Regions from separate parts of the Homo sapiens genome. Here all the other regions are linked to region 1. Evidence: fine-mapped expression QTL. A gene starts in region 1. Each other region holds a variant in brackets. All regions are shown on one strand. Distances are between the middles of the regions.

The links. PIP is the estimated chance that this variant, and not a neighbour inherited with it, causes the effect. A credible set is the group of variants that fine-mapping cannot tell apart.
Region 2: its variant is the best candidate, but not a certain one, in a credible set for the expression of ANAPC13 in prefrontal cortex (CommonMind, PIP 0.88).
Region 3: its variant is the best candidate, but not a certain one, in a credible set for the expression of ANAPC13 in whole blood (TOPMed, PIP 0.72).

The regions. Positions count from the first base shown.
Region 1 is chr3:134,482,751-134,493,162 of GRCh38, forward strand. ANAPC13 (anaphase promoting complex subunit 13) reads right to left here and starts at 3,235. Exons shown (of 3, transcript NM_015391.4): 1 at 3,202-3,235; 2 at 56-181. The coding sequence starts at 154. CEP63 (centrosomal protein 63) reads left to right here and starts at 3,307. Exons shown (of 15, transcript NM_001353108.3): 1 at 3,307-3,452. RefSeq lists enhancers at 2,890-3,009, 3,040-3,139, 3,220-3,329, 3,421-4,239.
Region 2 is chr3:134,609,142-134,619,553 of GRCh38, forward strand. KY (kyphoscoliosis peptidase) reads right to left here. Exons shown (of 11, transcript NM_178554.6): 8 at 10,007-10,124; 9 at 1,054-1,242. It also overlaps a transcript of CEP63 not described here. Among named protein-coding and RNA genes, the nearest start is that of KY, 37 kb to the right of the region's middle. RefSeq lists an enhancer at 10,270-10,412. The variant G/A (reference allele first, on the strand shown) is at 3,055.
Region 3 is chr3:134,562,939-134,573,350 of GRCh38, forward strand. CEP63 (centrosomal protein 63) reads left to right here. Exons shown (of 15, transcript NM_001353108.3): 15 at 1-2,093. Among named protein-coding and RNA genes, the nearest start is that of CEP63, 82 kb to the left of the region's middle. The variant C/T (reference allele first, on the strand shown) is at 6,535.

The DNA.
Region 1 (10,412 bases):
TAGTTACTGCCAGATCAATACCTTTAACCCATCCTCAGCTCAAATCATAACCTACCAGTGGTATTGCGACATCCTCATAAGGCAGCTTGTCTTCTCGCCAAGCATCATCAATCAAATCCAAGATCCTTCCATCTCTCTGAACCTCACTGTCCATTTTCCTGCAGCTTTGATCTTGTCAAATCTGTAAGCCAAAGAGGTTATTTCTTAAACACGAAGACTGAAGAGATGGTATAATCCACTATTAGGATTCTCCAGGCTTTTTAGTCTGGGGCCACCTTTTGGGAAAAGGTTCATTTTCTCATATGGGCCGGGTGACTACTTTGATCACAGTTCCTCTCTCCAACCCCAACTGATACATATTTTATAGTGTATACTGGACAGGCATAGCCCAGCTGACAGACCAGTGTCATAGAGTGTGACAGGAGAGCAACACGTTAAACGAGGCCCTCAAATATTAATATGTTGCATCTCAATGTAGCTCTTCTCTTCTAACTTGAACATTCACCTTTTCCTGTTTGTGATGCCTTTGATGAGTCCCTGATTCATAATGGCCAGCTAAGTTTCCTTTCTAGCCCCTGGCTCAAACCTCAGCATTCTTAGGCACAGGAGTCACACGAACATACTGTAAAGGAAACGGCTTCCTTCCCTAAAATAGTACCCAGGCTGAGATCTGAATAAAGCACTTCTAGGTGAACACCAGTGGTAGAACCTCATACTGCTAAAGTTTCTCCAGTTTCTGCTTCCCTTTGGGGTAGCTCCTTCCTCGGAGGTTCCTTCCTCTAATTCTTAACGCTACACTCCCTTCAATTTCTGGCCCAAATGGTCACGATGCTTATTTAGCTCCTTGACCATGGCTGATTCCCCATTTTTCTCTGAAACTGCTATAATCTAATCCAAAAGGCTGGCTAGCTTGTAGGATACTTCTGGATTTCCCTGTTTCCAAGGTTGGGCCCTGACTCATCATAGGCATCATCCTATGGGTGCTCCCTGCTACCAAGTGACAATCCAAAAAGCCCGGAAGCCACTGGCATCAAAGGTACTCTCAGTTTCTGAGACTATGGAGACTCACACAATAAGCAATTTTGGGGTGGTGGAGCGGGGTGGAACCCACCATCTGGAGGTGCTTTTTTCAGAGCTCAGCCTGGGTGATATTTTAAGGAAGGAAGCCATTTCCTTTACAAGCTCAACTTCAGACATCGTCTTGCCTTGAGGATTTGTGTCAGGTCTGTAGTTGGTCCCTTCGCATAGTCCAGTTTAGTGTTATCTCAGTATGTTCATGAGCTCCTGTGCCTAAGAACGCTGAGGTTTGGGCCAAGGCAGGTGGAAGTTTTTGTAAAAATGGCTCACAGGGCCGGGCGCGGTGGCTCGCGCCTGTAATCCAGCACTTTGGGAGACCGAGGTGGGCGGATCACGAGGTCAGGAGATCAACACCATCCTGGCTAACAGGGTGAAACCTCGTCTCTACTAAAAATACAAAAAATTAGCCGAGCATGGTGGCAGGCGCCTGTAGTCCCAGCTACTCGGGAGGCTGAGGCAGGAGAATGGCGTGAACCTGGGAGGCGGAGCTTGCAGTGAGCCGAGATAGCGCCACGCGCCACTGCACTCCAGCCTGGGCGACAGAGCAAGATTCCGTCTCGGAAAAAAAAAAACAAAAAAAACCAAAAAGGCTCACAGCTGTCCCCCATAGGATAACTGCAAGATATCCCTAACACCTTGGCAAAAATTATACACAGATTGGTGTGGGAAAGGGTTTACACCCCCATGACAAGGATCTCGGCAAAAGTTAAGCAAAATGCGCCCTGCTACTTCTGTCACCGGTGAGCCAGGTGAGGGCTTAATTAATCCAGTACTCAATAATTAACCGAGTACTACCCAGTGGATAACTCAAAGCAAGACGAAGTTTTGGTTATACTTTTGAAGTCCCTGTCTTACAAGTGCTCCCCACTTTCCTGCTGCTACTCCTTTGTCCTTGCTGCTCTGTCTCCTGGGATACCCTTCTCACTTTCCTCAGCTGATCCAAACCTGACTTTCGGAGGCCCACGTAGATTTTCCACCTTTGTAAAGTTTTCTCAAATCACTCGAGCTTCAGTAGGCCTTCTATCCTTGAACTCTTGCTTCTTGTCCTAACTTAATCTACTAAACAAGCTAGGTCAGCTTTGTGGTCAATTGCTCAGGTATTATTGCCTCCAACTGTTACGTGTACATTTTGTACCCATGATTCCTTAGTAGATCTTTCCACATTTGGTCTCAATCTTTTTCACCTGTCCCTTCTCCAAACACCTCCAACCCTGTCACATTTTCCAGCCTTGACAGTTAAAACCCCCTTTTCCACATCACTAATGCCACTCTTCCTTTCAAGATAAACGCAGGCGTCAGCTCTTGAAGGTCAACATCCCATTTCCGGGATTAGGCGCGAAGGTGCCTTCCCTCATAAGGGGCTGGAAGGATGGGAAGCATCAAGATAATCAATGCCCAGGGCACACTGATTATCTTGTGTATTAAAGCCACCGTCCCAAGTACTCGTCACCCAGTACGACCACTGTTTCCTGAACAAACTTTTCTTACTCACGTGACAGTCCCGATGCCTGCAATGCTCTTTGTTTCTTCCTTTTTATTCCAGTGAACCCACAGTCAGTCTAAAAATCTTAGGTCCCAGGTCGCTTCCTATAGGAGGCCGCCTCCAAACCCCAGGCTGAGTGCGGTCCCGGTACCCACCCCTCCAGGGGTCTCACAGTTCCCTAAGCACAGAGCATGGCACCAACTGGGGAGTCTGTCAAACAGCCCAGATGAATGTCTTTCCAAACACGCGGTGCCTGCGTTTCCAGGGACAGGGACACGTCTTATCAATTTCTATATATTACAGCTTTGTAAACATAATATTTATAAAATCAAAGCGGGAAAGCCTTGTTCCTTGCTAGAAATGAGCCTCGCAGGCCACCACCATCCGCACCGTACGACAGGCCGTCCCTCAGCTGCGGCTTCCTGCCTCAGGCAGGATGTACCAAACGTGGAAGCGGAGACGGGGAGGTCTGGGGGTGCCACGCAAGTCCCTTTCCTCCCGACACGAGTGCAGTAAAGAAAAACGGTTATGAGCGTAAAGTGACAGCCTCGGCCGATGGGAATAGGGGGAAGTCCGACACTGAGCAACGAACGCATTCCCGCGCCTCCAAAACCTAGGCCGGGGGCGCTGGAAACCCTTACCGGCACCCGGCCACCGCGGCAGACGCTTGCTCCTGCCACGCCCCCCCCCCCTCCCCCGCATCACGTGTCTGCACTCGCTTTCCTCGGATTCCCGGATGTGGGTGAGTTCATTTGCTCGCGTGCAGGGGAAGTCTGGAGAAGGCATTGTTTCAATTATTAAAAGTGTGGGGGCAGTGGGCGGAACAAACGCGCCGACTACAGAGGCTGGACGTAAGCTTAGCGGTGGCGCGCGTGCGCAGCGCCGGCCCGAGGTAACGGCGGGAAGGCTCAGGGGCGTGCTTGCGGCAACCCTGTAACCGCCGGTGCGCAAGTTGGAGGGGCAAGGGGCTGCCGTGTCCTGGTCTGGAGGCGGCCCAGGCTGCCTTGGTGATTCTGGCTTCGCGGCCTCATGGCTTGCGGCCGGTTTGCGCAACGGCCTGCGAACCACCAGGCGCGTCCCCGCCGGCTTGGGTCCGCCCCGAAGCCCAGTCCCTCGGCCTGGCCCGCTATGCCCTGCACACTGGCGGAGTCTGGCGTGGCGCAGCCCGGCGTGGGGTTCGGCCCCGCCAGGTGGTCAGCCCTTCCTCGGAGTCCAGGTGGCTGGGGGCGCTTCGGAGAGTGGCCAGGTGGGCGAGCGAGCTGCGCCCAGTACTCACCTTCCCCGGCGGACCCACCTTCCTTTTCAGCGGAGAGACCCCAGTGCGGCCTCCCTGCCAGGGCTGCTGTCTAGCTAGCGCTGTTGGGACTACTTCATTCACGGCACAAGGGGACCCGCTCATTTAGTGTGGCATGTTAAGGTTGGCAGCTTTTAAAATAGTGAGTTGGTTTAAACGGTTATGTTAGTACAAGAGGTACGGAAATGTGGCATAAATCGTGGACTGAAATTGGAGAACCCTGAACTAACGGCTCCATGCACACAAATGAGGGATAGAAAGAAATAAGGACGGTTTCTTAGGAACACTTTAATCATGGAGATACTTGAAGACAGTACATTTAGGCTTATAATGTGGTTTTTCTTACGTCCCTTACGACATCAGGAGAGTAAAGATGAGTATGATGTCAGAGACAGGTCGTCTTTTACAGTTTCAGCACCGTACGCTGATATGCACAGAGTAGTTTTCCCTGAGCCTTATGTCTGGTTAAACTTATTAAAAGAATTTATTATTTTAATAAAGCAGTATTGTAGGGTAGATGCCCTGTATTTATACAGTTCCTCAAGTGCTTGCATTTATTTTTTAGATACGAGGAAATCATAAGGATCGTTGATTAGATTTCTGTTAGCTGTAGCTTAATGATAAAGTGTATATATTTTCTTATTTGGCATGCAGTACCATTTTTAGATTGATTTTTATTTTGAGTTTGCTTTTTGACTGTGGCATTATCAGTGATCAGGGTAGTAAAAAGCTCTGAAACTAAATTAGAGTAGAGATTTATAAACAGGCACACTGCCTTTTAAAATGTATGTAGATGCAAATCTAAAAGTTGTTTGTAAAAATTGTGTATGTTGATTGTACTGATGCCATTTCCTCTCGTTAAAATGGTGGAAGACCTTTGCTTAGTCCTTTCTGTTCTAATTTATGTTGTGCTGGCAGATGGTGACAGCATCAGTAGTCCACTCTGTCATTGCTTCCTGCTTTCAAAAAATGTCAACTTGACTTGAAATTCAGCTAAAGCCAACATTGACAGAAGGTTTCAGGAACTGAATCTCCGATCTTTATGTTATTTTAGTCCGCCTCCCCGCCCCCATCAGGAGCTAGGTTTTTCAGTTTTACAGAGCCACAGTACTGTCATTACACATACACAAATTAATAAAAATTCTCTAATGTCAATATCCAGTCAGATAACGATTTCTTCAACTGTCTCTTAAATGTCTTTTTACAATTAGCTTGTTTGAACCAAAATCCCACAGGGATCTGCCTATTGTGTTTGGGTGATGCACATTTGACATCTTTTAATCTATATTTGTTCCCTCATAGTTATAGCTATGGGATTAGCCCCTATTTTTCCTTACAGTTCTAAATTTAGCAGATTGCATCGCACAGTATCCTTTAACATGTATCTCTGTTGCCTTTGTGTCCTCTAAACCAGGGGCCCCCAAACCCGGGGCCGCAGAGCAGTACCAGTCCGTGGCCTGTTAGGAACCAGGCTACAGAGCAGGAGGTGAGTGACAGGCTAGTGAGCATTACCTACCACCTGAGCTCTGCCTCCTGTCAGATCAGCCGTGAGGTTAGATTCTCCTAGGGGCACGAACCCTATTGTAAACTGCGCATGCAAGGAATCTAGGTTGCACACTTATAAGAATCTGACTAATGCCTGATGATCTGAGGTGGAATAGTTTCATCCTGAAACCATGCCCCTAACCCTGTCCATGTGTATTATTCATATTACTGAAGAAGTGGTTGGCCGGGCGCGGTGACTCACGCCTGTAATCCCAGCACTTTGGGAGGCCGAGGTGGGCATGAGGTCAGGAGTTTGAGACCAGTGTGGCCAACATAGTGAAACCCCGTCTCTACTGAAAATGCAATAAAATTAGCCGAGTGTGGTGGTGTGCGCCTGTAATCCCAGCTACTCGGGAGGCTGAGGCAGGAGAATCACGTGAATCCGGGAGGCGGAGGTTGCAGTGAGCCGAGATCACACCATTGCTCTCCAGACCAGGCAAGAGTGCAAGACTCGGTCTCAAAAAACAAAAAAAAGTGGTTTGGCCATTCCTCCCCCAAAACATTTCATATGAATTTTAACAAAAAGATATTTACAAAATGTGTTATTTCCGCCCTGTCGGTGTTGAGAAATTGTCTTCCATGAAACAGGTCCCTGGTGCCAAAAAGGTTGGGGACCACTGCTCTAAACCAGTAGTTAGATGTAGAATTGCACTGTCCGGTATTGTAGCCACCAGCCAGCAGTGGCTAGTTAATTAAAGTGAAATAAAATTAAAAATTCAGTTCCTAGGCTGGGCGCGGTGGCTCACGCCTGTAATCCCAGCACTTTGGGAGGCTGAGGTGGGTGGATCACGAGGTCAGGAGTTCGAGACCAGCCTGACCAACATGGTGAAACCCCGTCTCTACTAAAAATGAAAAATTAGCCGGGCGTGGTGGCATGCGCCTGTAATCTCAGCTACTAAGGAAGCTGAGGCAGGAGAAGGAGAATCGCTTGAACCCGGGAGGTGGAGGTTGCAGTGAGCCGAGATCACGCCACTGCACTCCAGCCTGGGTGACGGAGCGAGACTGTCTCAAAAAAAAAAAAAAAAAAAAAATTCAGTTCCTAACTTGCATTAGCCACATTTCAAGTGCTCGGTAGCTACAGATTGCCTGGTGGCTGCTTTTTGAACAGTGCAGTTATAAAATATTTTCATAATTGCAGAAAGTTGTATTGAACAGCACTGCTCTAGAAGCCTGATGAGATTTCACCCTTATATTTGTTTTTGTTTTGTTTTTTGGTGGGATAGTTGGGGGGGTTGGACAGATAATTTCATAGGTAATGCAGTATACTTCCTATTTCATTAATTATCAGGGAAGCAGTGTCTGAGTTGTTTTCTTTTTTTATGATGTTAACATTAAACATTATATTGGGTTTAGGTGTAGTTAGCTCCATCCACCCATAGTGAAATTCCCCAAGACTCTTTCACTTAGTGGTGAAGTCCTTTTGTGGGGTTATATTGCCTGTATCCGTTATTGCATTAGAGGTTGCAACGTGGTGATTATCTAATTCTATTATTTCTTCAATATTTATCAACTGAGAGTCTTTTATGAAGAACTTTCCCTTTCCAGCTGTTTGACTACCCTGAAATACAATTTGTACAGGAAAGGCAAGAAAAATGCTTAATTCTTTGCCTCTATTTTCAGACCACAGTAATGAGTTGGTGGCCTAGCAGCCTCCAAAGGTAACCATGAGGGTTTTTGCCTTTTTGTAAACCTATAATCATGAACTTATAGACTTTATATTTAAACTGTTTCAACATATGGCAGTTGTGTTTTTAATACTCAAATTGTTTCATCTTTGGCCAGTGGGAGCTCCTTAAAGTTGGCTCCTATTCCATTTGATATGACCAATAGCTTTGGTAATTTCCTTGCTTTCTGGTAAATAATTTTCCTGGCTCATTTATAGATTTCTGGTCTTCAAGGAGCCGTGGTTCTTTTGAGTCTGAGATAGTATTTGGAGACCACAGTCTTACCTAGGTGGGAGAGGTGTTCTTGCTACTAGGTTAGTCGTTAGTTCTAGGATTTATGGTGGCCAGAGTTAGGAAATATTATATATTAAAAAAAACACAAATATGCAAAATTCGCATTGTTTCCAACATTTAACATTTAAATTTCCAAAATTTAAACTTAATTTTACAGTTTTTTCACACGTTGGATTTATGTTTGTATCTTTTTTGCTGAGTCTTGGTGCCTAGTGCCATTAATAGAATTAGTTTTTTTTCCTCATCCTATGTTATATATAATGGTTTCAAGTTAACAGGCTATTTTATTATCAATATGATTCCTGAATAGTGCTTAGGATTTCTTTGCAACTGTCTTTTATCCTTATTTTATATGTCTCTAGGAAAGTGTATAGTAAAATTATTGTATTTAAAGGCATATGAAGTAATTTATTGTATAGTTAGCCTATCAAGTTGATATCTAGTTGGTAGTTGATTTATTTTATTTTGTTTCCAATTTTTCAGTACTGCTTTTTTCCCCATTTTGATTTGTTTTATTATATGCAAAACCTTAGCATAATTCCCATAAAACAAGTACCCATAAAACAATTTAGCTTTCATCTCTGTTTCTTCCACTCTGCTTATTTTCCTTCCTTACTGATACTGTTTTTACTAGTTTTGAGTCTATCCTTCCATTAAAAAAACACATACCTAAAAGCAAATCTACATGGACAAACATACCTTTCTTTCTTAGGTAAAATGTGCTATTATGTATACTGTTTTCCATCTTGGGTTTTTCACCTAGTGATATATGTCCTGTAGATCCCCTCCTTAGGAGTATGTAGAGATTGTTATTCCTTTTTACAGTTTCGTAGTACTCCATTGGTGGATGAATATTTAATTCGTCCCCTCTTGATAGACACTTGTGTTATTTTCTGCTATTACAAATAGTCATGCAGTGAATATCCCTGTGGATATGTTGTTTTGCATTTTTGCCAATGAGCCTGTGGGATAGATTCTTAAAAGTAGCGTTGTTGGATAAAAGGGTAAATGCATATATCAGTTGTTAGGTATTACCAAAGTCTCCTCTATAGCAGTTGTGTTCATTTTGCATTCCTACCTATTATGTATATGAGTGCCTGTTGTCCCACAGCCTTGTCATCAGAGTGTATTATCAAACATTTAATTTTTGGTTAATCTGGTACAGAAGAAAGGGTAACTTACTGTAGTTTTAATTTGTATTTCTCTTATGAGCAAGGTTGAACATCTTTTCATATTTTTACTGTCATTTGTATTTTTCTGTGCATTGCTTGTTTATACCTCTCGCCCATGTTTCTATAGATTTTTTGCCTAATCTTTTATAAGCTCCTTATATATTTGGGTAATTAACCGTTTGTGGTAAAACTTTCAGGTACTGTTGTCATTTGTCAGTTAACTTTGCTTATGGCACTTTTTCATATAAAAGTTTGTTTTTATGTACTCCTATTTCTCAGACTTTCTCATTGTTCTTCCTGGATTTTGAACTATAGTTTGGACAATTTTTTAAAAACTTTAATATTTTGAAAAGTTTCTCTAATACCTTATTTACTGGTATCAGTTTAATTAGGAGCCTTTCTGGAAAATGCTTAGTAATACTGATTGTTCATCGGAACAGCCATAGTTTACTGGCCATGGTATATCTGACACAATCATAGAGCTTTGTAATGAAAACGACACCAAGGCAGGTACAGGGACAGAGAGCATTGTTATCCTCCTTTAGACTTGAAGGTTAGGCATATCCCTTCTCTTAGTATGTACACATTTATTCATAATTCTGTCTGGAGTTTTTATTTTCTTCCTGTGTCCCATTTTGTGAATAATTTGGTCTTGGGCATATACTATGATATTTTTCCTGATCTGTAAAATGATAAAGTTAAATTAGAGGCCTGAAGTGCTTTCTAGCTCATAAAGTCTATGTTAATGAATTTCAAAGATTTGCCTATTATAAGACATTCTATTTGTATTCTTTTTTTTTTTTTTTTTTTTTGAGACGGAGTTTTGCTCTGTCGCCCAGGCTGGAGTGCAGTGGCGCGATCTTGACTCACTGCAAGCTCCGCCTCCCGGGTTCACGCCATTCTCCTGCCTCAGCCTCCCGTGTAGCTGGGACTACAGGCGCGCGCCACCATGCCCGGCTAATTTTTGTATTTTTAGTAGAGACGGGGTTTCACCGTGTTAGCCAGGATGGTCTAATTTTATGTAATTATATGGCACATGCAAAGAAGAAATCAAAGTGACATAGTGCATAGAGTTGAATGATGGTCAGGTTGGTTAGGAAAAGAATCAGTGATATAACTATGAGCAACTCAGATGACAAACATCCACAGAAAATCAGCCCTTACTATTTGCCTGATCCTGAGAATTGATGGTGTTTGGCACCAGGCAGATGGTGAAGGTATTACAGAAACACTTTGCACATTAGTAAGTTTACTTTATTTCTCACATAGGATATTACTGGTCCACTTCCCTCCTTTTTTTTTTTTTTTTTAAACAGGAATCTCTATCTTAGACCATTTTGATTTCTAAAATAGCAATATTTCTTATGTGACTATTTCATTATTGTGCTGCTGCCACCTGGTGGCCACAGTAGTGATGTCATACTTCAGTTTAATTTCTTTTTTTATTGCAAAGACACTATTAAGCCAAAAGATAGGCTGATATATTTTAAGATATAGAATACTGTAAAATATATAAAGGTTGCACATCGATTGTGACTCAATTGATTGCCACAATGTCTAGGTTGAATCCAGGACTATAATTTTTAGTTTATCATAGTCAAGTTATTTAACTCTCTAAGCCTGTTTTCTCAAAGTAATAGTATCTGTCTTTTATGAGTATAGTGAAGATTGATTTAGACAATGTGTACAAGGCAGCTGTTGAACATTCAGTAACTTAACTTCTAAGTATATTATTAAATAGTCATAGAAAATATATTAATGTATATTACTAAATATATTAATGTTTAAGAATAACATGACCTAAATAAGTATAATTTTACTAATGATAATTTTGAATAACTGTGATAGCACTGTCAATAAGAATAGCACTTTCCTACATGTTA
Region 2 (10,412 bases), 130 kb after region 1:
AAAGGCATAGCCTGTGGACCACGCAGTGGGGTCGTGGGAAGGCAGGGAGACAGAGTGCTTGAATTCACTGCCTCCATCTACCCCAACCTGTTTCTGTGCTGTGCAGCTGTGCTGGCGGGGACCTTTTGTGGCTCTCCAGGGCCGACTGGAGTGCTGCCTCTCTGGATGTCAGTAATGGGGATCAAGAGAAGAACAGAGAGGCCCTTCCTGAGATGGGGGTGGCTTTGCTCTGCCTAAGAGGAGCAGTGTTGAGAATAACAGAGGTAAAGAGGGTATCTGTGAGTACGCGAGCCCTGCGTGTAGGATGTGTGTGCACATGGCTTGTATTTGTCCCATGTGTGGGAGTGTCAAGATTTAAGGTGCAAAAATCGAGAGAGCACACTCATGTTTCTGAATAAAAAGGAATCTGAGCTGCTGATAACATCATGATCCATGAAGAATATTGTATGTAGCCTCAGGTTAAGGCCAGGATTGGCCAGAGCCCCAGAGGACAGAAATGCTCCAGTCCTCTGCACCCCGGCTGCCCTGCCCCACTGTGCCTCACAGTGACCCTGCACCGCCAATAGCACCCCTTCCCCAAAAACCACAGCCCTTTCCTCAGAAATGTGATACGGTCTCACTCAGACCTGAGAGGAGAAGGAGCCTGGTGTCTGGGCAAAGCAGTAAGAGATCATTCTGGCATTTGTGCCTGGTAATGTGGTCAATGGCCAAAGTCTGGAAGGGAACCTGCCAACAACTAAAGAAGGCTATTAGCCCACCTTTCCTCATGTGTGGTCTGGGGGCAAATGCTGCAGGCTTTCAGTGCTTTGGTGGAGGGAGTTATAGGGAGTCAGAGTGGGGAGTTTGTCAGTGGAGGGTGAGGTGACAAAAGGGTCTGGGCCCTCACAATTGGCCTGGAGCCAGCCCACTTCAGAGCCGAGGAGGAGTGGGCATGGGGCCTCCTGGCTCTCCTTCCCCTCCCGCTTGGTCTTCTCCACCTGCTGCTTCATGCTGCCTGGCACATCCTCCACTTCCACCTGCCAGACGCCCAGCAGAACTGAGACAAGTACTTACAGGAAGGTGAATTTGGAGGTGATGGTGTCCACCAGGCCGCTGCCCCAGGTGCTGTCCACCAGGTGCCATCTTCCCTCCAGGTACACAGCATTCCAGGCATGGTCAAACTCCCCCGAGAAGCTCTGCCCTGTCTGGTAGCCGAAACCCTTGGAGTAGCCAGGCACGGTCATACACTGCACTCCGGCGAGCCTGGGGGCAGGACAGGGGGTCTGAGAGGGGGATCCCGCTGTGGCTTGCCTCCAAGTCTGTCCATGGTCTCAGGTTTCAGGCATGTTTGCTGCCCATCAGTCCTCCCTGTCTATCCTTTTCCTTGCTTCTTGTACTCACATATAAACAGCCTTGATGGCTTTTATCTCGGGGCACTGGGGACAGGGAGATACAGTGCTGGCTGGTCCTGTTGGTACAGACTGGCTGCAGTCTCCGCTGTCTGCTCCTCCCCTGAGACCAACACCATTCAGATCACTTCTGAAATGTTCATCCCTAGAGCCTGCTTGACACGCTCCTCAAGCAGCTCTTCAGGAGGAAAAAATGGGGGCAAGCGTGAGGCTGGCTTCAAGAAAATAGGAGCAGGGGAAATGACAATGTTCCTGCAACAAAACCTACATGTAAGGGGCGAGCACAGCTGCTGGGAGAACCAGGGCGCTTCTGGACATGCGACTGAAGAGATGGGTCTCGTGACATGGGTGAGGTGTTGTGGGGTTGCTGGTTGTGAGGGTACAGAAGCCAAGCCCTACCCCCCTGCTATTCCTCCCAAGGATGCCTGCAGGGGAACCCCGGGGCAGGCGGTGGATGTCTCCAGCCCTGGCCCAGGGAGGACTGGCCAGCTGCCAGTTTGCTCAGGTCTGACTGGTGGGTCTGTCCTTTGTGAACATGGTGCAAGAGCCATCATGGTGCATTAAGGTCATTTGCTGACTGCCTGCCCTGGCCACAATTCTGGAGTCTCCTGTGGCTGTCCTGAGGGGAATGGAAATGCCGACCAGTCAACCTGAGCTTTGGGGTCCTTTTGACATTGTGCTCCTTCACTGCTCATAGTAGAGCTGGCACTGCTTTCTGGGAACCTGGATGGGAAGATGGGCATGGGTCACCTCTGGGGAAGATATAAAATGAGACATTTGGAGCTAAAACCCTGAGGCCCAGGCCTGGGCTGTGGGCACCAGTCCAAGGCCAAAGCAAGACCCCTGGGTGTCCTTTCATGGCCAGCTGGTCTTGCTCCTCAGCAGCCCTGCTCCCCTGAGGACAGCCAAGGGGATGGACTGTGCAGACAATTTCACTGCTAGTCTGACCTAGGGACATCCCATGCTAGCCCTCCTAGGGCCTTTGTGTAAATTAGAAAAGGTTCCCCTTCCTCAAGACATTTTCCTTGCACTCATGGAAAATTGGTGTAATAGATACACAACCTGTGAAACCGAGGATGTGCTTGATGCCCCTTTGATGGGGCTCCTTTGAGTACCACACAAGCTGCTCAGTCCCCAACTCAGTGGTGACCCTGTGCTGTACTCAGCTGAGCTGAGTCTGCAGTCCAGGGTGTTGGTGGGGTCTGTTTCAGTGAGATGGGCCCATGGGGCTGGGCCCTTCCACAGACCAGGGCTGCAGCCTCAGTTGCTCTAAACAAGAGGGCCACGGAGCCTCCCAGGGGAATGGGGTGAAATGGCCATGCATCTACTATAGGAATTGGGGGAATCTTCCTTGTAAAAATGAACATGTAATTTAAAATTAGCAAAATATTGGATTAAATATTACTAATACATATCACTTGCTGAGAGAGTCATTGGGATCAAATGTGATGTCCTGAGGGTTAACAGATTCTACTTTCCCAGCCATCAGTGTTTCTTCACATGCATGCAATGATGAGGTGTTACCATGTCTGCCTTAACCTCTGCTCACCTGTGGAAAGTCCGGGCCACTAGTGCTGAGGTTCCTTAGGGGCTTGGAAGTTTTCTAGCCCCCGCCCTTTTGCCTGTTGCTTCACAAAAGGAGGTTCAGGCCTCCTAAGCCCTCTAA[G/A]GAATCCCATAAGAACATACCAGCTTGGCTCTGTGGGATGGCTTCTGGGAGCACTTGAGGGCATGGGGACAGACTGCAAGAGAAACTAGATCCCAGTGTTGTGATTTTCTGCTGGCAAAGGCCATAAGCCACTCCAGGGCAGAAGGAGGCAGTAGCTGAGGAGACCGTGGAAGGAAGGGGAGAAGGGGCAGCCTGCATACCTGGAGTGCTCTCTCCTCATTTCTCTGCAGTGCAGAGAGCAGAAGGTGGTGGGGAGTGCTGAGGGGATGCAAGGCTGAGGGGGTTGTTCTCAGGATGAGGAAGTCTGGATGTGTTTATAGTCTGAGAGGAAACAGCTAGCAGAGAAGGACCAGAGGAAAGCAAGGCCAGAGGAGTGGGTAGAGGTGTAGGGGTGGGATAGACATTCTATAGGAGGTGGGGCCCCATCTACTCAGAGACTGGGTGAGGAGAAGAAATGTTGTGAAAAATATTTAGTGAGCTAAGCAGTGCCCCTGACACGATGTGAACTGACAACAGCATGTCAATCTCTCCAGTCAGCACAATGTCACGCCGATGCTGTGTGTGTGTGTGTGTGTGTGTGTGTGTGTGTGTGTGTGTGTGTTGCCTGCATGCACAGAGAAGGAGGGGCAGGGAGTGAGAGGGGGAGAGATGGCACAAAAGGCACCTGATCTTTTGGCAATGGGATTATAGGTGATTTTAATGTTTTTCTTGAAACTTCTCTGTATTTTCTAAATTTTTAATAATGATTATGTGTTACTTTGAGAATTGGAAAAAAAGCCATAAATACTACTTAAAATTATATTCTTCAGGAAATTACTTTCCATTGCTGCCTAGAATGTCTGTGCATATCACTTTCTAGGATGATGTGGAGGGATAAGGGGAGTCCTGGGAACAATGGGGCTTGGAGAATGGCTCGTTTTGCATTAAGGTGAACTGATTTAGCGGCGCTGTGGACCTCTGGACATGCTGCCCACTGATGCTTGTCCTCTGCTCAGAGCCACCTGGAGTCAAGGAAGGAAGGAGAGGAATTTAGCATTTGTGCAGCCTCCAGGCGGTGGGGTAAATCAGAATGGGTATGGAATGTCCTCCTGGGAGAAGCCATGTCCTAGGCCGTGTGCCCAGGGGGACATCCTGCCCTCAAGGGAGTGAAGTGGAGGCAAGATTGGAAAAACCAAGTCAGGGAGCAGCAGCGAGAGCCTGCCCCAGCCCTGGAAAGGAGAGCAGGAGGAAGAAGCAAGGGGCAGGGATGTCCACCTGTACTGCTCTGAGTGGGGGTGATGGCCCCTGAGCCAGGAAATAAGGTCACCTCCCAGGTCTGGTGGTCACCTCTAGAGTGACCTTGCCAGGCTTATCATGGGCAGAGAGAAATGTTGGCATTAAATGATCTCCAGGGGTTGATTCTTCTCTGACAGGCTGAGGAGAAGCTGGGAAGGCTGTGGGGAATGCCTGGGGCAGAAAAAAGATGAAAATATAAACTCAGTTATAAGCTTATGCCATGCTTGACTCTGATATGAGGATATTTTATTACCTGGCAGCAATGTGCCAGATGAATTGGACAAAGAAGGTCATAATGTAAAGCATTATTGTTAATATGCCATAATTCTCATGCAAAATCCTCTGTATGTATAAGACGATGATTGTGGAACCCACAGGAGTTTTGTCTCCAGCCACTCTTGCTAGCCAGGATGAACCACAACTCTTTCATGTCATCAAAAGATCACTGGCCGCACACACTGTGTATAAAGCACTGTAGCAGGGAATGCTATAACATGACATGGCACCATACAACGCAACACAATGTAACAACATAAAAAAATATCATATCCCCAAAATAAGGCTCAGTGGCTGCCCTAGATGTGCTGATAGTTGGAAGGAGGGTGGATATGGGAACTGTCACTGGAACTGTCTCCAGAACTTTGCTTATAAAATCCCAGTCTATAAGCAAAGACCTGGAGAGCCCAAAGGTGGAGGAATTAACTTTGCAGGCAGGAGCTGAGAGAGCACGGAAGGAGGGGCCGAGGACTAGAAACATTTCCACCTCCTGAAGAGCTCCGACCAGCCATCCCAGAGCCTAAAATATCACCCAAGGAGATTTATTTAATGACCTCAGACTGCAGAATCTTCGCTTCTACTTTACAGAATTGACAACCTCAATTTTGCCTCCATAGCTCATGGCTGATATATATCCCAAGCCACAATGAAAACATGGATGTAAGATGCCCTGAACAAGCTGCCAAGGAGCACCCTGGAGGATTTGGAGAAAGCTGCAGCCCCCACTCTCCAGCAATATCAGGGCTCAGGGACCCAATCAGAGAAGCCCCAAGGGCTGCAAAGGACCACATGGCCACCAAATGTGGCCTGATGGGAAGAGACTGAACAGAGGGGCAGCCAAGCAGAAGGCAATGTCATTACCTGGGTTACCCTTGATGAACCCTGAAGCTGCTGAGTCTTCTATGAATGCATTATCCTTATTATTTAAAAAGATCTGTGTGTTCCAGTTTGGTGCACTGTATCCTAGTGTATTAATTTGGTATTATTTTATACTGAGATGGTCCAGGCCCTGCCATAGGAACTGTATGATGCTCCTACAGTCAGTACCAAGGCCAGGCCCCAACAGCTGTGTGGCTGAAATATCTGGGTGGACAGGTGCACCCTACACCAATGGGCTCTGACCGCAGTAGACTTTCCCAAATCTGATCACCTCTCCTAGGATGTGTGAGCCAAGTGAGGGAAAAAGGGAGGGAGTGTGCCTGTAGGAGAGACTATGAAGTATGCTTTTCTTTTGGTATTTTGTTGAAAATACTGTGGTTTCTATACTGCAGCAGGACAAACAAACCATGACTTATCTTTCACAATTTATGTACTTGATTTCTTATAATCTGACAGTGTGTTTATATTTCTCCCATGTGCTCTCTTTTCCCTTTTCTTACACACTACCCTTACAGCTACGTCAATAACTAGTAATCTTGATAATAATTCTCTCTCCAGGGCCCCATGCAGAACCTCATGAGACGTGACTTCAGAGGCCTCCTCTCTGAAGGTGAGGGAGGCGTCAGCTGTTCAGAGAGAGAGGCTGCCTTGCCTGGGGACACACAGCTAGCCAGTGGCCGGAGCAGCAGTGGATGCAGTTGTCCTGATGCATAGTTCAAGAAGCTTTTTTTTTTTTTTTTTTTTTCACGTGTGAAAACATCTATTGGGAAAATGGAAAAATCATTTGACCTCATATTCCTCATAGCTGACATGGTAAGTTAATTTTTTTTCTTTTTTCTTTTTATTTTATTTTATTTTTGTTATTATTATACTTTAAGTTTTAGGATACATGTGCACAATGTTGCACCAGCTCTTTTGTAAATCAAGATTTTGTTTTGATCTATACACTTGTAGGTGGTATAGAGAGTGAAATGGAAAGGTGGTTTGCACCAGTGACATAACTCATCTTTGTGAGTGCCATCCTTTGGTGTAGCTATAAGGGTGGGGGAGCTAAGATGTCCCTTTCAGAGGCCTTATACACCAGCATCAGATTTGGTGATAATTTAAGGTTATCCAATGAATCTGCATCTCCCAGAAGGCTTAGATGGCCACTGCCTATCTTTTGGGGCCTTTGGAACCAAGTGATGTTTTAGGATTATAGGGGACATACTGCTAACCAGAAGCAGCCATCTGACTGCACACACTCCTGCCCCTGCTCTCAGTGACAGCTGGAGGATGAGTGGAAAGCCAGCTGACATCTGATTGGTGACAACCAACTCCCTCAGTGTCAGGGCTCAAACTCGTAATAAGTGCCTGGCTTTATCCAACGTCTCTGAAACCTGCTAGCTGGTGATGCTAAAGCCATGCTAACGGGAAGAGAATTTACTGGAGGCCGACTCAAGAGCAGCAGTCTGGGGAATTAAGCTTGGCTCCTGCGAGGAAATTAGGCAGAATCAACTAAGGATGCAGGCAACTGAGGCAAAAAGAGAGACATTAATGTTGGATGATAGAAAGTCAGAAGGAAACTGGACCAGCAGTTACAAGCTATAGCATTAACCAAAAAACCCCACATCAGTGACTTGGGACAGACAGAAGGAACTGAATGATGTTGTGAAAATATCTGAATTCCTCCCCAAATTACTTTATTAAATCAGTCTTTAATGAGACAATTTCAGGGAGGTGGAATGGACTGGCAAAAAGTAATGATGTCCACCCTGACAACCAAGAAGGGATAAATCAGCAAGTGCGGATTATATGTCCTCAGTTATTAAGGAATTAGCTAATTAATTTACCAAACTTTTGGCAGTTATTTTAAAGGTAAAGAGAGTTAGTAGAGGGATGCATAGATAGGTTACTGATCTTTAAAGAAACAGTTAAAGGAATTCAGGGGACCGTGAGCTATTGCTACACATCTCAGGCAGTGTGAGGAATTTTGCACATGGTAATCACCATGTTGGAACTAATTTTAAATGATGCAAAATGTTAGGGAGAGTTTTAATGATAAGCTGCAGGCCAGAATAGGGCCATTGTTAAGTATCTGGACCAGGGCAAAAAGCTGACAGTTTCACTCAAGGCAAGTGTCAATTTTCTGAATCTATGTAGGCTGGCAGAGTCTGTAGGAAAACTCCACAGAGCAAAAGGACTCCAATCAATACTCAAGAAAGACAAGATAGGTCAAAAAACACCCACCCCAAAATCGGGTTGGTAACCCCCAAACTGCAGTCTCATTGAGTCCTATAGCCCTGCCAGGTAGGCAATCTAGTCTCCAATATATAGATGAGAGCACTGAGGCTGCAAGAGGTTAAGGGCCTTACCACAAAGAACAAAACTAATAGGTGGTAAATTAAAAACTGGGAGCCAGGTCTTTCTGGCTTTAACTTTGGCACTCCTTCTAAAGGATGCTAGGATGCTTATACTGGATCAAGGAGGCGATACCACTCTAAGTGGTAGACCCAGGTCTTTCTAGCTTCAAATCTGGCATTCCTTCTACAGTATGCTAGAAAGCTTATACTGGATAAAGAGGAATATATCCTGGAACTTGGAAAAAATGCTAAGCATTTTTCAAATTTGTAAAATCAGAGGAAAATAATCATGTTCTGAAAGATGCTAGGCACAAATGGAGCTAAGAGACTTGTGGCTATTTCATCAGTTAAAAGAGAATTCCACATTCCATTCCACATAAGTCTGCTAGGAATATCCTGTCATTTCTATATATGTCTATTGAGGGCCTACTGGGTGTAGGATTCTGAGATGGGTATTCGCAGGGGAGGTAGAAGGAGAGAGGAGATAAAGGCAAATATAGACGTATACAATCGATAGGATGTATGACAACAACCGAGCACAGGTAATTCCTGTATGCACAGAACACAGTCTGGAAAGTAATATGACCAAATGTTACCAGTGTTAGCTGTAAGTGGTGAGATTCAGAGTAATAATTTCTTTTTTGCTTTAGTGCATTTTATAAACCATCTACAATGAATGGTATTTTTTAAATTTAAAAATGTTATTAATTGAAAGCATAAGGCAACACATGAGTTTGGTGTGCAACTGGGCTGGGGGTACAAAGGAAGGGGAAGGTTGTGGGCTGTCCTGGAGCGGGGCCTGGAAGGAGCTCTGGGGAGAGGGAGCAGGTGTGCATGCAGAGGTGGTCAGGAAGGTGGTGTCACACAGTGCAGGGCTGGAAACTTGGCTGAGGTCAGATTTTGGAGGACTTTGCTAGATAGTGTGATCCTTTAGTGATGTTAGGAACCCAGGACCAGGGAAGCCTGGACAGAGAGGCCAGTGAGGATCCAGGTTCCTGGAGAGGCCTGCAGGCAGCAGGAGGTATGCTTGGGTCTGGGGTAGGGGGTGGGAAGCAGCCTGGGTGGCATATTCTGTACCCTGACCCACCGTGGCTGCGTCTGGGGCTGTGGTCTCAGGGATTGGCCTTGAAAGTGAGAAAAGGGAAGTACAGGAAGCAGAGCAGGAGGCTTAGAGTAACTCAGCAGCCGGGTAGGTGCCTGTGCTTGGCAGTGGTGATGGGGGCAGGAGGCAGCACAACAGGGGGTTTGGGCCAGGAATAGGTTGCATGCACCCAGTGCTCGGCAGCTGCCGCCTCTGCAACACTGAGGCCATCACAACTGCCTGCCTGTGGACTAAGTGTTACACTTGGTTTGATGAATTGCCACCTGCAGTTCTGGTGGGCTGACATCTGGGTGCCTAAGAAGACTCACTCCCAGAAGCCTAGAAAGACAGTGGGCCGCTGTTCATCCACCCCCTGGGGAGGGGTTCTTTGATGGCCCCAGGGCTAGCTGACTGTTTTCTGGAGGAACCCAGCAGACCTCAGAGGGTAGGCTCAGGAAGCTGTGGGGGTCAGTGGCCATCCCCTCCCCCCACCCCACATCTTGAGCCTGTTTTGAGTCACTGGGAACTGGCAATGGCCTGTTCTCCTGCTCAGGCCAGAGCTGTCACCCACCCCAGCAACCTGGCCATATGCCCACTCCCAGAGTGCTGAAAATGGAGCCCAGCGACTCCAAGAGTAGCCGCTTCGTAGTGATTCAGCTGTCCAACTGACAAATCTTTTCAGGTGGGAGATCTTTTGTTTCCCCCAAAAGAGGCTCCCTGTGTCAGCCCTGAGGACAGCCTTTCACAGTCCCCTTGGCATCTGCAGTCACTGTCCTCCCGCTCCCAGGCCTGCCATTCTTTTAACCTTCAGCTGCATAGAGATGGGAGAAGGCGGAAAAAGGGCTTTTTATAACCAAATTATCTCTGTGCATTCATCTACCATTATGTTAATGCATCGCGAAGCCCGGCAGATGGTACAAAGTCAATTATGCTGGTGTTAAAAAGGGAGAAATTGACCTTTTCAGGACTCACTTGGGTTCCAGAGCAGAGTTTGTAAACTCAGGTTTCAGGCCTGGCATGTGGGCAAAGGCACATGGCACTGTGGAAGAGGGAGAGGGATGGGTCCGGTGGTCAGCATGGGGACTCCTGTCTCTCGTACCTGCACATTCTCTCGAAGAGGCCAGCATAGCCATCACAGTTGGTCTTCTGGGTCCGCAGGATGTCAGTGGGTTTGAAGGCTTGGCGGTCCTTCTCCTGAGCAGCTGCAATGTCATACTCTATAGGGCAGGTGAGGGGATCATGAAGAGCTTGAGCCTGGGAGGCGAGAAGACTCCACCCCAACCCCCAGCTGTGCTCTGGCCATCACCAGCCCCAGGAAACTACAGTGGGCTGAATGGAACTACAGCCCCAGCACAAATGGGATCTGGGAACTATCACCTCTTTGTGCAAGTGGTGAGAGGAAGAGCAGGCCTTGGCAGAGGGGGCCACCTGGCTCCCCAAGCCTCTGAGGAGGGGCTAGGAGGAGAAGGGACCAGGACAGTGCAGAGGCATGGGGCTCTCTCTGC
Region 3 (10,412 bases), 80 kb after region 1:
GCTCTTAATACCACCTATAGGCCAGTGACCCTTACATTTATTACTAATCTTGACCTCTCCCCAGAGCTGCTGTCTTAGATACCTAGCTGCTTATGCGATGTCTTCACTTGGATATCTGACAAACATCTTGTTTCCAAGAGAGAACTCTTTATTCTCCCTCTTGCTAAGATTCCATATCAGGACATAGCATTATGTTTGCCAGTTCCTAGGAGTTACTTATAATTCCTTCCTTACCCACATCCGCATATCCAGTCATTTGGGAGGTCCTGTCATTTCTTCCCCCAGAATCTTATCTCAGACCCAACCGTTTCCCTCCTGCACTTCTACCACCTGATCCAGACTACTTCTCTCTCACCCTGATTCTGGCAGTAGCCTCCTAACTGATAGTACTCACACCAGTAATTCAGGGAGCTTCTGGAGTTATCCTTTAGAAATGTAAATGAAACAGTGTCACCACTGCTTCCCTTCAGACTCTTCCAAGGCTTCTCTTTTTTTTTTTATTGAGACAGAGTCTCACTCTGTCGCCCAAGCTGCAGTACAGTGGCAGGATCTCGGCTCTCTGCAACCTCCACCTCCCGGGCTCAAGTGATTCTCCTGCCTTAGCTTCCCGAGTAGCTGGGATTACAGGCGCATGCCACCAGGCCCAGCTAATTTTTGTATTTTTAGTAGGAACAGGGTTTCACCATGTTGGTCAGGCTGATCTCGAACTCCTGACCTCAAGTGATCCACCCGCCTGAGCTTCCCAAAGTGCTGGGTTATAAGCGTGAGCCACTGCACCCAGCCCCAAGGCTTCTTACTGCACTCAGAATAAAATCCAAATGAATTAGTATAGCCTACAGAGTGTCAATAATCTGGGCCTAATCACCCATTGCATCATCCTTTACTGTGCTCCACCCATGCTGGCGTCCTTTCTGTTTATTGAGTGCAGCAAGCTTTAACCTGTTCGGGTCTTTCATTTGCAGTTTACCCTGAATATTCCCTTTCTCTTACCTCACCTTTGATTGGCGTTTTCCCCCTTGCAGACCTGCACTCTGGCATCCTCTCCTGAGCAAGCCTTCTTTGATTGCTGCCTCCCAAACCTGTTTCTCCCCATTTCTCTAGCTCATTGGCCTGTGTTACTTGCTTCATAGTGCTCACTACTATCTGAAATCATTTCATTACTTGATTTATGTTTGTACTGTCTATTTCTGTCTTTAGAATTAAAACTCCTTGAGGGCAAGGACTTTGCTTCTCTGGTTCATGGTGGGATCCTCATCACCCAGCACAAGCCCAACACTTAGGAGAGGCTCAGCTAGTTTGAACCAATGGAAAATGCCATTCCTGAGGTGCACCACATCGTTTCTTTTGTGTTGGTGTGCATGCTGTCCTTCAGTTTGTCTCCTCTTCCCACACCCTGTCATGTGCTCCTAAAACTCCCCCTTTACTTGGCTACTTTATCTGGCTTGGCAAAGCTTTCCCATATCCCCTGACCCATGTCAGGGAACGTTTCTCCTCATTGCTGTCATGGCACCCTGTGTGTGGCTCTGACCAGACTTTGCTATCCGCTTTGATTTCTGTCTTTCAGGGGCTAAGTCCTGCCTACATCCTCAGTCAGCATGCTGCCTAACACATAACAGATCCTAAGCAAATATTGGGTGGATGAAAATCACTACCATTCAAGGCTTCATTGTATTTATCAGTAAAACTGAAATAATATCTAATGGGGTCGAGAAGATTTACTGAAAATATATATTTGAAAGGGCTTTGCAGTTTTAAGTACTGTACCTATGTGCATTGCTGTTACATTCAGGAGATTTCTGAGTTTTAGACAGTCCCAAGCTTCAGCTTAAAATCTGTAGACTGCAGCCCGTTTCTGAAACGTTTGTACTACGTGTTGACTAGGAGGAACAATGACAGACTCTGTAGTCACCGGAAATACTTAAGGAATCATGAGGTACTATGTATTTCCTTAAATTATACTGTTTTTTAAAGCTGAAGTATCTAATAGTTAATGGGTTGTCCAAATTTGTCAGAACATTTGACTGTAATTTAATGTCTCACCATTTTTCAAAAAGATATATTAATACCAAATATTAAAATGTGTCAAGACTAAATCTGAGTTAGTGTCTTAACACACATTTTCCAAAATCTGTCCGTGATCAGGGTACCCAAATGAGATGAAAAGATTAGGGATTTGTAGTCTACATCTGGTGTTTACAGATAATGTTTTATTGGGCAAGTCATCTCATTCTTCTTGTCCTGGATTCCCATGAATTTTCATCTGGATTCCTACGCAGATTTTAGCTGAAGAGGGCAAAGTTGACTTCCCACTGTGGGCTGGACATTACCTTCCCTTGCAGACTCATTTGATCTCAACAAGTGTAGAAAAAATACTACAACACTCTGTTTCTGTGACATCTGCTTAAACCCAAACAATTCTTACCTTCTCTCTCTTACATACACATAACACCTGGTAAACTGTGGGTGATGATTTTCTGTTTGCAAAACACTCGAGTCCAGTACCTAAAAGTTGCAGATAAGAAAGATAATTATAAAATAAGCTCTATGGCATGAGAACATACGTTAAGCAAACAGTTGTCATGAACAGCACTGAAATGTAGAAAAAGTTAGAAATGTGTCAGCTTGTCCCAAAACAGTTTGAAATAGTATAAATGCATCAAAAAGTAACAAACAGAATCGGGGCAGAGGGAAAATGAGGGCTGTAAACATTGATTCACTAATGAATCTAGTTGTCCAGTCCAGTTGCTAGAGGAAGGCAGCCAAGTTACCTCTGAGCTTCAGAGGGGGAAAAGCAGAGGAGAAAACATTTACCTAAAAGTTTTATGGTGCCCATAAGATAAAAAAAAAAAAAAATCATAGACTTAAGAAAAGCACAGATTTTTTTTGTGTGTTTGAATAAGCGTTTTGTAAAGTATGTGAGTATCCAGAAGAGAAGTCCAACATTTTCATAACTGGTAATAATAATCTGCACAGCTCCCCCCACAGTATGCTTCACTGTGGGTTGATGGCATAAGGCTGACATCCAAATTCAGAGGAAACTGTTCTGAGAGGGCCACAAACATGATTGCGTAAAGCTCTCATGGCCTGAAAAGGGAAAATTTAGAGGGATGATAGACTGCTTTAAACCAATCTTTTGTAAAAGCTATTTCTCCGCAGTGCAATTTTGATAATTCAGACATACAATTCACATCTTTTTTTTTTTCCCTCTCTGTGAGGAACTAGAATTTGGGAATTTTATGTTGCCCATTAAGACCAGGTTCAATTATTTGACAATCATCCAGTCAGAAGAACTTTTGCACTCCTCTTACAAAAAGAACGTAAGGCAGTAGTTGATAGGGGAAGGTCTAAAACTCCTTGATATTAAATGCAAAACATTTATTAATGTTAATAATAGTAATATAATAATATTAAATGCAAAAAATGTGCATTGTGCATTTTTCTGGGGAGAAGGTTCATAATTTTCATTAGAATCTTGAAGGTGTCTGTGAATCAAAAAGAGATTAAAAACCATAGCTTTAGGGACTAGAGTTGTCCCAGAATGGTATCCCATTTCCTGGGGAGAGACATAAAATTGGAGGAGTCCAACCTCTCCCTTCTGGGGCTGAATTTTAAAGTGCAGTTGAATAGTCATTCAAAATTTAAGCTTTTCAATAATAAAAAGACAATTCAGTTCAAAAATGGACAAAAGATTGGAATAGACATTTCTCCAAAGATGTACAGATGGCTATTAAGCAAATGAAAAGATGTTCAACATCATTAGTCATCAGAGAAATGCAAATCAAAATCAAAATAAGATACCATTACACATCCACTATAATAAAAAAAAAATGGACAATCACAAGTGTTGAAGATGATGTGGAGAAATTGGAACACTCATATGTTGCTGATGGGAATGTAAAATAGTGCAGTCACTCTGGAAGACAGTTTGGCAGTTCCTCAAAAAGAGTTACCATATTACCCAGCAATACCAATCCTAAATATATGCTCAAGAAAAATGAAAATATATCCACACAAAAATTTGTACACAAATGATCTTAGCAACATTATTCACAATAACACCAAAGTGGAAGCAACCTAAATATCCATCATTGATGAATGAATAAACAAAATGTATATCCATGTAATGGAATGTTATTTGGGAGCAAAAAGATTTGAATGAAGTATTATACTACTGATGCCACAGCATGGATGAACCTTGAAAACAGGAAGAAAGCAAAAAAAAAAAAAATCACATATTGTATGACTCCATTTACATGAATTGCCCAGAATTGACAAATCTGTAGAGATAGAAAATAGATTGGTAGTTGCTAGGGATTGGCGGCGGAAGGTTGGGGTGGGAAATGGGGTGGGGATAGGAGGATTGGGAGGTGAAGACTAAAGGGTATGGGGTTTCTTTTTGAGATGAAAATGTTCTAAAATTGATTGTGATGGTTGCACAACTCTGAATATAACAACTAAAAACAACTGAATTGTGTACTTTAAATGGGTGAATTATATAGTATGTAAATTATATCTTAATCACTGTTACCAAAAAAAAAAAAAAAAGCCTCTGATGCATGGCAGCTCCTTAAAAATATCAAGTTTATATTAAGGGAATACCACAACACATATAGCACAAGCTATTCTAAAGTTTTCTATTTTCAACTCTCAGTTCACAGGAGTAACGGTACCTTTCTTGGAGAGAGTGGATGTTCAAGCTCTGTTAATCATTGCTTGTGGTGTGGGGTGGCTCTGCACTGTGCAATATTGTGGGGCAGAGGGCCAGGGGCCTGCACACCGCAGGGGTTCCTGCTCTTCCGGGTGGGAGTTCAGTCTTGGTGCTGCTTCCTGTTAGGCGAGGTTGCAGGCAGCAAAGGCCACTCATCAGCCAGGCAGTGTCTTGGCTAAGTGTATTCTAAGGAGAAGCTGCAGGAATGCTTGGCGCTAACCTCAGTGCTTAGAGGAGGACTGTTTACAAACACTTTAGAGGGTTACAGACCACTGATGTGGAATATGAGCATATTGAAGTTCTGCCCTAAGACTGCTTAGCAAGTCCCTCAGTATCTCTACAAGCATGACTGGGCAAAGTAAAGAAAGAAAAGCCAAGTACATTACCTAAACCTGCTTTATTTCTTTGGCTATGAGAAACAGATGAGCTAAGATACTCTTTGAAACTAGTCTTCCTAGTCCTTTTCTGGAGTGGCTATCCCTTTGACAGGCATCCACTGTGGATGGGCTAATCATCAGTTCCCAGAGCTGTCCTGATTTCTGTGGCACCAGCTTTGGGAGGTAATGGGGGCCTCTCAGTGGGCCAGCTCTTGGATTTGTCTTGCCATTGATGTATAGCATAAACCCAAACAGCCCACCAGTCCCTGACTTTTCTGCGACCTAGGACATGTGTTTCAGATCCCCAACTTAAATAAAATACAACAAACAAGACCGGAAGTGTTATCTCCCAGTTAGTTTCTTCAGCCACAGGCAAGCATAGCCCTTGGTCCCAACAGGAGCATGCACTGCAACCCTGCAGGTTCCTGTGTAACCCAACAGGGCAGTGGCTGGGGCAGGAGCTCAGTGCTTCCCCAAGGATCCCCTTTTCTGGAAGACAGGCCCCTCAGCCCAGCATGGAACCCCAGCAGTAGCCTGTTCATATTAATAAATTCTGGACCATGGGCAAAGGACAGGAAAGGTTCCAGATTGGTGATATGTTCAACCTGCTACCTCCTGCATGAGCTATGGCTTGTAGACTAAGAAGGCATCACCTGATCTGTTTATTTTGCTCCAAAAAGGTTTAACATTAACCCATTGTTTAACAACACCAAGCAATTCCAGACGCTTCCCCAGGCAAAGTCATTCCTTAAATCCACATTTCTCAAGCTGTTTTCCAGAGATCCAAAATATTTGAAGTATTAAGTGTTTTATTAGTCCATTTTCATGCTGCTGATAAAGACATACCTGAGACTGGGTGATTTACAAGAGAAAGAGGTGTAATAGACTTACAGTTCCACGTGGCTGAAACCTCACAATCATGGCGGAAGGCAAGGAGGAGCAAGTCACATCTTACATGGAGGGCAGCAGGCATAAAGAGATCCTGTGCAGAGAAACTCCCCTTTTTAAACCATCAGATCTTGCGAGACTTATTCACCATCACGAGAACAGCGTGAGAAAGACCTGCCCCCATGATTCAACCACCTTCCACCAGATTCCTCCCACAACACGTGGGAATTCAGGTGAAATTTGGGTGGGGCCCCAGCCAAACCACATCATTCCACCCCTGGACTCTCACATATCTTGTGTCCTCACATTTCAAAACCAATCATGCCTTCCCAACAATCTCCAAAAGTCTTAACTTATTTCAGCATTAACTCAAAAGTCCATAGTCCAAAGTCTCATCTGAGACAAGGCAAATCTGAGCCGATGAGCCTGTAAAATCGAAAGTGAGTTAATTACTTCTCAGATACAATAGGGATACAGGCGTTGGGTAAATATACCCATTCCAAATGGGAGAAATTGGCCAAAACAAGGGGGCTGCAGGCCCCATGCAAGTCCGAAATCCAG[C/T]GGGGCAGTCAAATCTTAAAGCTCCAAAATGATCTCTTTTGACCCCATGTCTCACATCCAGGTCACGCTGATGCAAAAGGTGGCTTCCCATGGTCTTGCACAGCTCCACTCCTGTGGCTTTGCATGGTACAGCCTCTCTCCCAGCTGCTTTCATGGGCTGGCATTGAGAGACTGTGGCTTTTCCAGGTGCACGGTGCAAGCTGTCGGTGGATCTACCGTTCTGGGGTCTGGAGGACAATGGCCCTCTTCTCACAGTTCCACCAGGCACTACCCTAGTGGGGACTCTGTGTGGGGGCTCTGACCCCACATTTCCCTTTCGCACTGCCCTAGCAGAGGTTCTGCATGAAGACCCAACCTCTGCAGCAAACTTCTGCCTGGATATGCAAGCGTTTCTATACACCCTCTGAAATCTAGGTGGAGGTTCCCAAACCTCAATTCTTGTCTTCTACACACTTGCAGGACTAACACCACATGGAATCTGCTAAGGTTTGGGACTTGCACCCTCTGAAGCTATGGCCTGAGCTCTACGTTGGCCACTTTCAGCCACAGCTGGAGTGGCTGGGACACAGGGCACCAAGTTCCTAGGCTGCACACAGCATGGGGACCCTGGGCCTGGCCCATGAAACCATTTTTTCTTCCTAGGCCTCCAGGCCTGTGATGGGAGAGGCTGCTGTGAAGACCTCTGAAATGCCCTGGAGATATTTTCCCCATTGTCTTGGGGATTAACATTCGGCTCCTCATTACTTATGCAAATTTCTGCAGCTGGCTTGAATTTCTCCTCAGAAAGTGGGATTTGCTGTTCTATTGCATTGTCAGGCTGCAGATTTTCCAAACTTTTATGCTCTGTTTCTCATTTAAAACAATGCTTTTAACAGCACCCAAGTCACCTGTTGAATGCTTTGCTGCTTAGAAATTTCTTCTGCCAGATACCCTAAATCATCTCCCTCAAGTTCAAAATTCCACAAATCTCTGGAGTAGGGGCAAAATGCCACCAGTCTCTGCTAAAACATAGCAAGAGCCACCTTTGCTCCAGTTCCCAACAAGTTCCTCATCTCCATCTGAAACCAGATCAGCCTGGATTTCATTGTCCATATAGTTATCAGCATTTTGGTCAAAGCCATTCAACAAGTCTCTAGGAAGTTCCAAACTTTCCCACATTTTCCTGTCTTCTTCTGAGCCCTCCAAGCTGTTCCAACCTCTGCCTGCTACCCAGTTCCAAAGTCGCTTCCACATTTTCAGGTATCTTTTCAGCAACACCCCACTCTACTGGTACCAATTTACTGTATTAGTCTGTTTTCATGCTGCTGATAAAGACATGCCTGAGACTGGGCGATTTACAGAAGAGGTGTAATGGACTTACAGTTCCACTTGGCTGGGAAAGCCTCACAATCATGGCAGAAGGCAAGAAGGAGCAAGTCACATCTTACATGGAGGGCAGCAGGCAAAAAGAGAGCCTGTGCAGAGAAACTCCCCTTGTTAAAAACATCAGATCTCATGAGACTTATTCATCACAGACTTATTCTGTGCTGTCATGAGAACAGCACAAGAAAGACCTGCCCCCATGATTCAACCACCTCCCACTGGGTCCCTCCCACAACGTGGGAATTTAAGATGAGATTTGGGCAGAGACACAACCAAATCACATCAAGTGTTTTTTAAGAATATGCCAAAACAGAATGGAAAACACAGCAAGTCAAATTCCCCAGAGCCAGGTCAGCCTCTGAATGGGATTAGGAGTGCCCTCTCTCCCTCCCACTGGCAAGCATCTTGCCTCAGCCTCCTCTGTTGCTTCCCAAATGGAATGGGAGCTGGTGGCTTAGGTACTTAGAGGTTCTTTACCTTCTGTGTGTCAGGGATGCCTCTGGCAGAGTTGAGGAGCCTATGGACCCCTCAGAATAATGACTAAGTGCATAAAGTAAGATACAAAGGCCGGGTGTGGTGGCTCACGCCTGTAATCCCAGCGCTTTGGGAGACCGAGGCAGGTGGATCATGAGGTCAGGAGATCGAGACCATCCTGACTAACATGGTGAAACCCCGTCTTTACTAAAAATACAAAAAATTAGCTGGGCATGGTGGCGGGCACCTGTAGTCCCAGCTACTTGGGAGGCTGAGGCAGGAGAATGGCGTGGACCCAGGAGGCGGAGCTTGCAGTGAGCTGAGATCGTGCCACTGCACTCCAGCCTGGGCAACAGAGCGAGACTCTGTCTCAACAACAACAACAACAACAGCAACAACAACAAAAGATACAAAGCATTAAATGGAAAATAAAATATCATCATTCAGTTATGAAAACCTAAGAAAAAACAAATTTGTGATGTAGTATTATATGCACTTCTTTGTTAACTCATTAAATAACAAGACTGAGTGGCAGGTCTATCACCTACCATGCTTTTGAAGTGGGGACATATGAAAGTAATGTTTTAATATGTCCATCACAATTGTAATGAGCTATGAAAATATCTGTGATTTCTATTGGAATAAAGCTAAAGGTACTGCTAGCACTGTGGCCTATACTCATAATGGAAGAAAAGTACATTTCAGTCAGAGGTTATTGAAAATAAGGATGTCAGTTTTTCCCACCCAAGTTCATGGAACCCTAAATTGTATCCTTGGATCCTTGGGAAGTGTCTGTGGACTCCAGGTTAAGAATTTAGAGGCCTACTTATGTTTTATCTCATGCCTGGTCATGTTGGTTCCCTGCGAACATTCACTTGTTTACAGGAGGCAGTATTTGTGCTTAATGTCAGTCTTGACTCTAAGAACTTAGTCTTTTTTTAAAAAATAATTTCAACTTTTATTTTAAATTCAGGGGGTGCACGTGCAGGTTTGTTACATGGGTGTACTGCATGATGCTGAGGTTTGGGATATGAATGATCCCAATACCCAGGTAGTGAGCATAGTATCCAATAGACAGTTTTTCAACCCTTGCTCCCCTCCCTTCTTCCTCTTTCTATCCCCAGTGTCTATTGTTGCCATCTTTATGTCCGTTACTACCCAATGTCTAGCTCTCACTTGTAAGAGAGAACATACAGTATTTGGTTTTCTGTTCCTGCCTTATCTTGCTTAGGATAATGGCCTCTGGCTGCATCCATGTTGCTGCAAAGGACATGATTTCATTCTTTTCTATGGCTATGTAGTATTCCATGGTGTATATGTACCACATTTTCTTTATCTAATCCGCTATTGATGGGCACCTGGGTTGATTCTATGTCTTTGTTATTGTGAATGGTGTAATGCTGAACGTATGAGTTTATGTGTCTTTTTGGTGGAATGATTTATTTTCTTTTATATATATACCTAGTAATGGAATTGCTGGGTCAAATGGTAGTTCTGTTTTAAGTTCATTGAGAAATCTCCAAACTGTTTTCCACAGTGGCTGTACTAATTTATATTCTCACCAACAGTGTATAAAGCATTCCCTTTTCTCTGCGACCACACCAGCATCTGTTGTTTTTTTGACTTTTTGATAATAGCCATTCTGACTGATAGGAGATGGTTATCTCAGTATGGTTTTCTTTTGCATTTCTCTGATAATTAGTGATGTTGAGCATTTTTTCATATATTTGTTGACTGCTTGTATGTCTTCTTTTGAGAAGTGTCTGTTCATCTCTTTTGCTCACTGTTTAATGGGGTTGTTTGCTTTTTGCTTGTTGAGTTGTTTAAGTTCCTTATAGATTCTGGATATTAAATCTTTGTCAGATTGTTTAGTTTGAGGATATGTTCTCCCATTTTGTTTACTCTGTAGAAAGTTTCTTTTGCTGTGCAGAAGTTCTTTAGTTTAATTAGGTCCCACTTGTCAATTTTTGTTTTTGTTGCCGTTGCTTTTGGGGACTTAGTCATAAATTTTTTGCCTAGGCTGATGTCCAGAATGGTGTTTC